2 separate regions of the Homo sapiens genome follow, and region 2 is linked to region 1. The links come from fine-mapping of genetic effects on gene expression. A gene starts in region 1. The other region holds a variant in brackets. All regions are shown on one strand. Distances are between the middles of the regions.

The links. PIP is the estimated chance that this variant, and not a neighbour inherited with it, causes the effect.
Region 2: its variant is the best candidate, but not a certain one, in a credible set for the expression of LINC01564 in esophagus mucosa (GTEx, PIP 0.86).

Annotation. Positions count from the first base shown.
Region 1 is chr6:53,625,837-53,631,224 of GRCh38, forward strand. It overlaps LINC01564 (long intergenic non-protein coding RNA 1564), which reads left to right and starts at 2,544. Exons shown (of 3, transcript NR_125841.1): 1 at 2,544-2,610; 2 at 2,739-2,855; 3 at 5,177-5,388.
Region 2 is chr6:54,000,914-54,006,301 of GRCh38, forward strand. It overlaps MLIP-IT1 (MLIP intronic transcript 1), which reads left to right. Exons shown (of 4, transcript NR_046832.1): 2 at 1-181; 3 at 1,701-1,806. Among named protein-coding and RNA genes, the nearest start is that of MLIP-IT1, 4.7 kb to the left of the region's middle. The variant C/T (reference allele first, on the strand shown) is at 2,354.

The sequences.
Region 1 (5,388 bases):
AGTAGATATATGTTTCTGAAATTTACAAGGTAACTGCTTTTGTTGGGACCAAAACCACACAGCCAATAAAACTAAAACTGTACTGGGAAAATCATTTAAATAAAAGAATAGTATATTAAGTTGGAGGGTAGGGTATATTTGAAGTCTTAGAGGCATGTAAACAGGAACTTGCAAGAAATTCCAGCAGAAATTTTCCACTTTAAAAAATATAGATAAAGCTGGGCACAGTAGGGCATGTCTGTAGTCCCAGCTACTTGGGAGGCTATGGCAGGAGGATCACTTGAGGCCAGGAGTTCAAGGCTGTAATACGCCTAGATTGTACCTGTGAATAGCCACTGCACTCCAGCCTGGGCAACATAGCAAGATTCCATCTCTAAAAAAATATAAATTTGATATAGATGTATCTATATATCTGTCTCTAAAAAATTCTGTCACTTCCATGAGTTCACATTATTGCTGAGATTTATTTTCTTGCAAGATTTTCTAATAACATGATAGTCCTTGTTTTCAAGCTGTCAGGTAGTAAAACAGTAATTTAATTTGGCAATAACATATGACATTCTAAGAAGACGCATTAGAAGGTTTTTAAGAAGTGTACTGAAATATTTTTGGAATGTCCTTCAAACAGGCAAAGTTTAAACTGGAAAGAGCAAAAAGTTAAATATTATATATTTATAAAAAGTCAAACTATTTTTTCCTTACCTGGTTAAAAAGGTGTTACCAAGGTCGCAAAATAGCTTTGTATATTAAAAATTTTTTTTATTGGATTAATTCCTAGTTGTAGTTTAGCTACTTATTTTTGTTTTTCATTTATCTTTTTCACCTCTATGTAGCTTATGTTATTAAGTTATGTTATTAAGTTTTTAAATAAAACCTAGGAGGCTTCTTAATTCTTTATGAAAAATTCTGTGAGAATAACTAGCTAAATTTTAAAACTACAACCAAATAAGATTGACATAATAATATGCATATACATTGCTCTTCTCACATTAACAATAATAGATTTGTATCTTCTAAGATATCTCTGAGAATAAAATTTCCAGCCATATCATCAGCTAAATTAACTCAAATTTACTATCTGGATTTGGCTGTTTCACTTGTAGGTTAAAAGTTAAAAGGTTTGCTATTTCTTGGAATCAAAGGTTATTTAATGAAAGAAGATTAATTTCAATAAATGATGCATTTAAAGTTTTTTCCAACAAAGAGTGTAAGAGATTTATCACAGGTTCTAAATAACAAATTTAATTTCCCTAACATGTTAAGGAGAATTTTGGTTCCCGCAGAGGACTGAGTGGACTAATCATTTATAATAAGACTGACTTTAAACTTCCTTTTAACTTGACAGTAGTTAATTCTAACTTTATTAAATTAGAATCCCCATTAATTCACCCATTTTTCTTTCACCAATTTTGTTTTACAATTAAGGTTTATCTGCAGAGTTCTGTTTTGACCATTATGCTGAAAGTGCTGAGTTCTGCTGTTTGCCTTCCTTCAGCCTTTCTGGCTGAATGGCTTCCTGAATCTTCTCAGAGGTTTCCCTCTGAGCCCATGATGGGGTTCTAAAAGCACATTCTGTTCATGTACTGGGATAGTGGGATGTGAGGGCAGAGAAGTTCTTCCTGAGCATGAGTCCTTCATCCTCTACCCACTGTTTTATAAACCTGTCTCAAATTCCATGCACTTTTGGACCCAGTTACTTGAACTCTCAGGAGCAGGTACTTTGTCACCTCCAGAGGGAAGGCCAGCATCCTCCTAGCGGGTACTGCTGTGTGCTTGCCCCTGAGCCAGGAGCTTTGCATTTGCTCTCTCATTTGATCCCCTCAACAACCCTAGTAGTGAGGAAATATCTATTTCATACATGAGGAAATTGAGGCCCAGAGAAGGCACTGGCTGCTTAGCTGTGTGCTGTCACCCTGTTGAAACCAACGCCTCCTGCCTACACTGCCACTGCCTGTATAAACTGGTGCCACCCACGGTTATATGGCAGAAAGCAGTGCTTCGAGAAAATGGACCAGCAACCGCCATGTGTTGAACAGGCTATGGGCAGGAGGAAATAAAGCAGTTATAGCACCTGGGGGTGGAAGTCAAGGCAGTAACCAAAATAAAGTGGGAGCACGGAAAAAAGCTGGGGAAATAAAAAGGTTCAAATTTCACATTTCCTCATGAAGTCCAGATCAAGTTGGAGCTTGTTTAATAGCAGAAATTAGGCAGCCAGACCTGTCTGTAGGGCAAAGAAATTTTTGTTGAAAAGCCCAGCAAGTATTTACTCCGCTGTAACAGAGTCTTTTTCTAACTCCAGGATCTTTTCTTTGTGTGCTCTGTAGAATGAAGTGTGCTTGTTTTGGTGGGGATACATTTACACAGTTCTCCATGTTTTGTTTCATCTTTCCTCTCCGTGTTGTTGCTCTCTTTTTCCTTTGCTCTATCCAAAGATATCAGCCAAAGAAGCCAAGAAAAATGTTATCTTTACTTTAGAATTAGGGATTTCAGATATGGGTAGATGGCTCTGTTAGGCAGAAGTGTCAGAGCTGGTTATAGGAAAACCAGGCGGCACATACATGATCCCAGACACCGAAGTAACCTCTGTCTCACTCCTCCACTTCCAGCAAGGTATTGTGCTCTGAGGGGCTGATGAGAGAAGGTAGATTATGGGTCTGCCAAGGCTTTTTACTGGTCTCTGTTTATCTTTTTCTGAGTGCCAATTCAGCATGATCTAGACCAGGATCATTTGTTTGCAGGGATGGAAAACAAACTGAAACTGGCTCAAGTGAATGCTCACTGGAAGGCTTACTGGAAAACTTACTGGAAGGATGTGAGGACATGTTCGGGAATCTATTTGCAGAAAACATATTCAGGTATACTGGGAGCTCTCCCTCTCTCACATTGTCTCCCTCACTGAAACCAGGATTGCTGTCTATTTCCTTGGGGCTGTTGCTGTCATGCTGTCTTACTAACTGTAGTGTTGTGTTAGCTACACGACTGCTCAAGTTTATTTTTTTGAAAAATTGTGTTCCATTTAGCCAGGATGATGCAAGTTGTTTCAAGAAAGGCTATAAAATGCTTGCAATAAAAGTCATGTTCATTCACATTCATTAGGAAAAAATGAAATAAATCTATGCTGCATAACTTTTTTCATGCCAAGTGCGGGAGTGGAGGTTGTCAAATCAAGACTGGATCATCAAGTACATAATGATAGGGTGCCAAAATTCCAAGGAGGTTGGGAGTCACTGTTGTTGAGGGTGGTCAAAGAATTTGTTTCCCCACAAGGCATGTGGCTTTGGGCCAGCACACCTCATAATTCGTTCTCTTCTATTTCCCACATCCGTCTTATAATGTCTCAATTTAACCAGGGGAATATGGAGCGTGAACTCTTTCTATTTACCCTTTTAACATCCAGGTAGATATTTCTGAGATACATGGCAATGTATCAGGGTTGAGTTTGCTGCTCTGGTTCTTATCCTTTTTTTTTGAGACAGGTTCTTGCTCTGTTGCCCAGGCTGGAATGCAGTGGTGCAATCTCAGCTCACTGCAGACTCTGCCTCTGCCTCTTAAGTTTAAGTGATCCTCGTGCCTCAGCCTCCTGAGTAGCTGAGATTACCGGCACCTGCCATTGTGCCCAGCTAATTTTTGTATTTTTAATAATGGTGAGGTTTCACCATGTTGCCCAGGCTGGTCTCGAACTCCTGGCCTCAAGTGATCCACTTGCTTTGGCCTCCCAAAGTGCCGGGATTACAGGTATGAGCCACCATGCCTAGCCTCTGGTTCTTATCCTTTTGAAAGTCTTAAAGTCTCCTCTTCATTCATGTATCAAATATTTGATGAAATATTTGACCAGATGTCAGAGTCTAGAACATCAGACCGAGATAGTAAACCAGTGGGTCGTAAATAGCTACATGAAGGGCATAGAATCTAAACAGATCCAGAGTGAGAGATTAAGGTCAAGGAACTGGAAGGCATATCTGGATTTATTTATTTTTTTTAAAAAAATACAGTATTTGTTTGGATGGAGAATGGAAATAGAACTTGCAGTTTTGGTTCTCTGCAATGCAGGTTGGCCACTGCTATTGCTGTAACTCTGTCCTATTGTCCTACCCATACTACTGTTGTAACTTCCATAAGGTGGGACCTGATGAATCACGCACACTTCCAGAGTGTTTGGTCAGGGTGACCCTGGGTGCAGCAAGGATGGCCAATGCTGTTGGCATCAAAAGGCCAAGAGATGACTTTGGTCAGATTAGATAAAGACCATTTAGGGCCATGGAGATATGGAAGCAATTTTCTTCTTTCCTAGAAGATGATGCAATAGATGACAATAAGCATTTGGGTGAATCTCTCCAGCCAGGTTTGAAGGCAGTTTGTGTCACGTAGTGGGTGGGTGGATGGGGAAAGTTAGTTCTAATTACTATTCCAGGGCCCTACATCCAGAACCTTTCCATTTTAAGACAAGAGGGGGACTAACATTCCCAGCTCATTCGCAAATGACTCAAGAGAATGGGACAGAGGAAAGGGAGATACCATTTTTAATTCCCCCTGGAGGAGTCCTAATGTCCCATTAGTGTTTCAACTGTTTGGTCTAATTCAGGTATGAAGTACAGTGGTTTGTTTGTTTGTTTGTTTGTTTTGTTTTTTGTTTTTCATAAAATTGGTTGATTGATTAATAAATTGCTTGCTGGGCATTGGGGAACTATACATGAAAATTATATGACTTTAACCCTGAAGGAGCTCAGAATCTAATGCGGAAGATGGATATTTATGATATATAACAAGGGCAACAATAAATCTAGTACAAGATATGAGGAATCTTCCAGGCTTTGTATTGGACAAAATGTCTCTGGGATGTCCTTTACCTGGAGGCATATATGGGCCCAATGCCAGCTTCAGCTATTCTAAAAGAGACCTGAGTCTAAAGATCACACATTATCTCATATCAGGAGCCATGCTCACTGACTGAAATTTCCCAGTGGCCACCAAGCTATCATTATGGTCCCTATAGTCCCACTAATTATTATCCATCCCACTTTGCTACTTCTGGATCGGACACTTGACAGATAATGTCAGGGACAGTATAGCGTGTGTTTTGCCCAAATGATCTTTAAGACAGCCTCGTTCCCAGTCTGGCGGTTGTGTGGGAATCAGCATCTTCACTTCCTGATTTCTATTACACTCCTTCCTACAGCCCTGTCCACCACAGCCAGCTGGCTGAAGAGCTCAAAAGGCAAGAAATCAGCAAGAGAGAGAGATGAAGCATGAGAAATGAGCAAAAAACACCCAGCACATCATAATCTTGGACAGTTTAGCAGTACATGAAAATAGATGGTCCTCGCCCCAAGGGACTGCAGTAACCCTGAATAAACAGGATGTCTCTCACTTTTAGCAGTTCTTTCTGTG
Region 2 (5,388 bases), 380 kb after region 1:
TAGAGGAAATAAGAGCAAATTGCTTAATTGCTTCAAATATTCTGGAAGGCAAGCATTCCAAGCACATCTTACTCTTTTGGCTGTTGGAGTCATAGGTCTTCAATCCTCCTAACACAGGAAGAATCTTCACCGCTAAAAATCTGGCATAATTTTTTTACACTCACAAGAAAACCTGTCGTAGGTGAGTAAAATCATGTATCACCTCTAATAAATTTTATTTTTATAAAGTTTTGATAGCATTTCGTATGAAAAATATTTTCATACATGAAATTTTAAAATAGTTTATTGATGGCTTTTTCTGCTCAATGTGCTGCAAGAGGCAAAAGTTTCCCAATGTAGGTTTAAAATCCTTTGATAATGCTAGAATTGGACTATTAGTGTGCTTGTGTAAATCATTGTTGCCAATTACAATTTATCTATCAATTGTGATAGTTCTAATTTTAGCTAGTGTTAACCTTAAAAATAAATTCTTTATATTTGTTTAGTGCATTGCCAAGTCCACTTGCATTTTTTTCCTGTTTCTTAAATCATTTTTTTTCTCTCTACTGGTCACATCGTGCATGGACTTCTATAACATAGCTTCCTAACTGATTTTCCTGCATCACTCTTTGTCTTAAATTGTGCCTATTGACAGCTTGATTAAGCTTGGAAGTACATTAGGAGAATCCCCTTCCTGTGGAGTTTCCTGTAGCATTAGTCAGGAGAGGAACTTTAGTGGAAATACACTATTGGAAGCACACCAGATACAAAGATGAATAGATGCAGAGGTACCTGGTGGGTCCCAGTTTATCCTCACTGTCCTCCACATGGTGGTCCTCTCATCATCCAGAGTACAGGACCTGCTGACCACTGTGGCCCCAGGCCCACCACCAGATGCTTGATTCCAGACCCACAGAGGCAGTAGCTGCCAAAGGCAAAAGCTCTCCTGAGGTCTCCCTGAGCGCCTGCTCACAGCCCTGCTTCATAGATTGGCTGTGCTTGGCTTCTCAAGTCTCTCTGAAAGCATTGTCTTGCCAACCTGAGTCAGTGCTTCCTGACTTTTCCATCCTCCAACTCCCTCTCCCAGAACTTTCCTTTCCTTGCTCTTCCCACAATTCTGTAAACTCTAATTCCTATGGTAAATGCTTTATGGATTTACCATAATGCTCATAGTGACTCTGCTTCCACTACCAAAGCCCAGCTGATACACCCTTGAACTCATCCATTGCCTTTCCCAGAGCAAAACTTTTACAGTGAAAGTGATCATGAACTGACTTAATTCCCCTCTCCCCTTTCCTTGATCAATCCTTGATCCTCTTCATCTCTTTCAAAACTCTCACTTCCTAGGTTTCAGAGCTCCGTCTCCCTGGATTCTGCCCTCCTGGGCCACACACCCACATACTTTTGAGTTCAGGGCTTTTGCTCTGACTCACTTGCTAATATAGCAGGCTAGGATTTTATGTGGAGCAGATCTCAGTTCAAACTCTTGTGCTGCCCTTTCTAGCTGGGGACTTAGATAAGTTATTTGACATTTGTTAGGTATAACTTACTCACATGTAAGAGGGGGATAATGTCATAGTTATCTTATGAGGGTGGTAGGAGATGTAGATACAAAATTGAAAAGCATCTAGCAGTGCCAAATACCTGTGAGTGCCTCCACAGATGTTGACTTGCTTCCTCTTTTTCTTTATGCTGTGAACAATCCTCCATTGCCTTCCAAGGAGAAGAAGTGACCTCATGGTCCAGATGTTTTACTGCCTCTAGTATTGCAAATCCCAGTGGAGAAGGTTCCTGGTTGAACCATGAATTGAAACACCTAGCATTGAAGTAAGAACATCTTGGTTCAAGGGCAAGGGGCTTTATCTTTTAATGTGGGTGATTGTTCCTGTGAGTGATTATAGTGAAGCTGTACTTTGAAAAATTGCTGATGTTGATGCTGATTACAGATATGGAGAATGGACAAAATGAGAAAAGAAAAATGAAAAATTGAACTTTCCTGTAAAAGCAACACTAATTATAGACATTTATATCTATGGCTTATTATTTATAACTAATTAGTATGCAGCACAATGGCAGTGATGCAAGTCATTACATATATCACACCACCAACTTGTTTCACTCAATTGCAACAATAATTTCTCTCCATGGACACTTGACTATTGGTTTGTTGTTCAGGTTTGTTCATCTACTGATAACATAGAGTAATTAGAGGAATAGCAGTTTCCACAAAGAGAATACTGATGTATAGTGATAATTTTTTGCACTTCATCCCTTAAACAGTACTGTGGCAAAGTTGCTATTCTTATCTGCATTTTTCTGATAGGAAACTGAGGCCCAAAGAATGTAAGTAAATGCCAAAAGCCTTAAATATAGA[C/T]GTTGGACTCAAACACTTTTCTCTTCCAAGCTCTTACTTGGACCTATGCGGCAAAGCTGATCTGTTGAAAGACGTTTAGTGACACATAAATGTCTTTAATTAATGGAATGAAAATGACATGAGATGGATTTGTAAAATCAAGATTTGTAGGTTTAGGCTTGAGTTCTACATCCTAGGGCAAAGGATGTGACTGCTTATCTGCCCCTAGGGTCAGAATTCCTGACATTCTTGTTTTTTAATGCTTGTGTCTGCTTGCACTTTGTAATCTGTAGGCTTCCTGAAAGCTCCAAAAATCTAAAAACAATAAATCATTCAACATCTTTTAGCTTGTTTTTCTTTTTTAGAGACAGAGTCTCACTGTGTCACATAGGCTGGATTGCAGTGGTGCAGTCATAGCTCATTGCAGCCCTGACACCTTGGGCTCAAGGGATATTCCTACTTCCACCTCCCAGGTAGCCAGGACTATAGATGCACACCATCATGCCTGGTTAGTTTTTTTTTTTTAATTTTTTAATTTTTTTTTTTTTTGTAGAGACAGGGTCTTGCTATGTTGCCCAGGCTCATCTTGAACTCCTGAGCTCAAGAGATCCTCCTGCCTCAGCCTCCCAAAGTACTGAGATTAAGGGTGTGAGCCACTGTGCCCAGCCATTATTGCATTTTTGAGCTACCCAAATGGCCTAGCACTATCTTCAATATTTCAGAAGTACCATACTGTGTTCCAAACAAAACATAGCATTCCCTATGGACAGTGTGGTTTCTAACCGAAGTGGACAGTGGGTCCTCATGCCTGATGGCTCTAGAGAAGAGAAGGCTGCAATTGGACCCAAGTTCTTCAGTTAGGCCAATAAATACTCCCTGTTACTCTGATCTGATGATTTTGAGATTTATCTGCAAGGTGTAGGGGAGAAGGAAAGTCAATTTGCCATGCTTAAAGGAAAAGATAATGGGTTAAAGAAGACTTTGATGAAGCTTTGAAGTCTTAAGAAAGCTAGATTATATCATTCTCTCCAAAGGTGTTTCAGTCGCCCTTTTTACCTTGGGGTTTGGCGGTTATTTTATGCCCCCTAAAAACAATGTACCAATTATCCAGTGACTAGTGTTCCAATTAATTTATGGACATGAAGATTAACATGCAATCTGCTAATGCATTAATGAGTTTGTAATATTTAGAAATAGGAGGACCAAAACTGGTAGACCAATTCTGAGTTTTATCAACTTCAGTGGTTGAAATTAAAATGAAAATAGCAACATTTGTTTTTATTCTCCCTACAAAGAAACTAATTATTTTCCTCTGGGTAATGATAATTAACAAAATTCCTATTGTGTTCCTGATCAGTTCACAGCTGGCACTTCGATAATTACAAAGACTTGGTTTTATGAGGTGACATTAAACTCCTGCCTAACTTGGGAAGTACATTAATTGTATACTATTGCCTGAGCTTATTAATTCTAAATTATGCCTCAATGAACTTCTCAAATTGGGAGCAACATTTATATTAATAAACTAGTCAGTGAGAGGGAGGGAAGGAGGGTGCGAGAGAGAGAGAGAGAAAAAGAGAGATCATAAGAATCTACTACTGAGTGTAGATTTTGTCTGCTCCAGATGTTATAGCTGGGTTTAAAAAACTTTGATATGTTTGAATAAATTCCAAAGGAACGTCTCATCCATTCTTTTTTTTTTTTTTTTTTTTGTGACAGAGTCTCACTCTGTCACCCAGGCTGGAGTGCAGTGGCATGATCTTGGTTCACTGCAACCTCTGCCTCCTGGGTTCAAGCGAGTCTCCTGCCTCAGCCTCCCAAGTAGCTGGGATTACAGGTGCCCACCACACACACCTGGCTGTTATTTTGTATTTTTAGTAGAGGCGGGGTTTCACCATGTTGGCCAGTGGTCTTGAACTCCTGACCTCAATTGATCCGCCCACCTCTGTCTCCATCTCCCAAAGTGCTGGGATTACAAGCATGAGCCACTGCGCCCAGCCTCATCCATTCTTATAACACATTTTTAGCCATTCTTTTTTCATTTAAGCAGGAAAAGCGAAGTGCTAGGTAAGCCTGGGATTTGTGGTTGAAATGTGTTCAGAGTGCTACCCTCCCTCATTCCTTGGAACTTTCTGAAGGACCAGAACTGACCTGAGGACCTGTCGGGTGTGTATCACTGAGGGAGTTCCAGGGCTATGCAGGGAAGCCCTGAGTGGGATGCAGTGATTCCTCTCTATTGTGTCTATTTCCATGAGGGCTGCCATCCTTCATGTAACAGTACCTTTAGGAACAGGGACCATATATCTATATATTTCTATTTCTAAGTTTCAAACAGTGCTTGGCAGCTAACAGGTGGTCAACTAATGTTTGTCGGATGAATGAAGGGTGGTACCAAGGAAGAATGGTGCGTTTAGTCCTGGCTGCTAAAGGAGGTTTAATGATAATTGGCCAATGTGTGGTGATTAAGCCTCAACAGTTACATAGAAGAAACCATGTTTATACTCATGTTGCTTTAACAATGCCATTGAAGTCTGGCACCGTGTCTCATACCTGTAATCCTAGCACTTTAGGAGGCTGAGGCGGGTGGATCACTGAGGCCAGAAGTTTGAGACCAGCCTGGCAAACATGGCGAAACCCCATCTCTACTAAAAGTACAAAAATTAGCCAGGTGTGGGGGCACACACTTGTAATCCCAGCTACTCTGGAGGCTGAGGCATGAGAATTTCTTAAGCCCAGGAGGCAGAACTTGCAGTGAGCCAAGATTGCACCATTGCACTCCAGCCTGGTGACAGAGTGAGACTCTGTCTCAAAAAAAAAAAGCCAGTAAATGTTACTTCTATCTTAAATTTCCAGTATAGCAATTTAAAAGATGATCTTTAATTTTTATGGATACATAATAGTTGCACATATTTACTATTTATGGGGTACATGTGATATTTTGATACAAACATACACTGTGTAATGATCAAATCAGGGTAATTGCAATATCCAACACCTTAAACGTTTATTATTTCTTTGTGTTAAGAACATTCCAATTCTACTCTTTCAGTTATTTC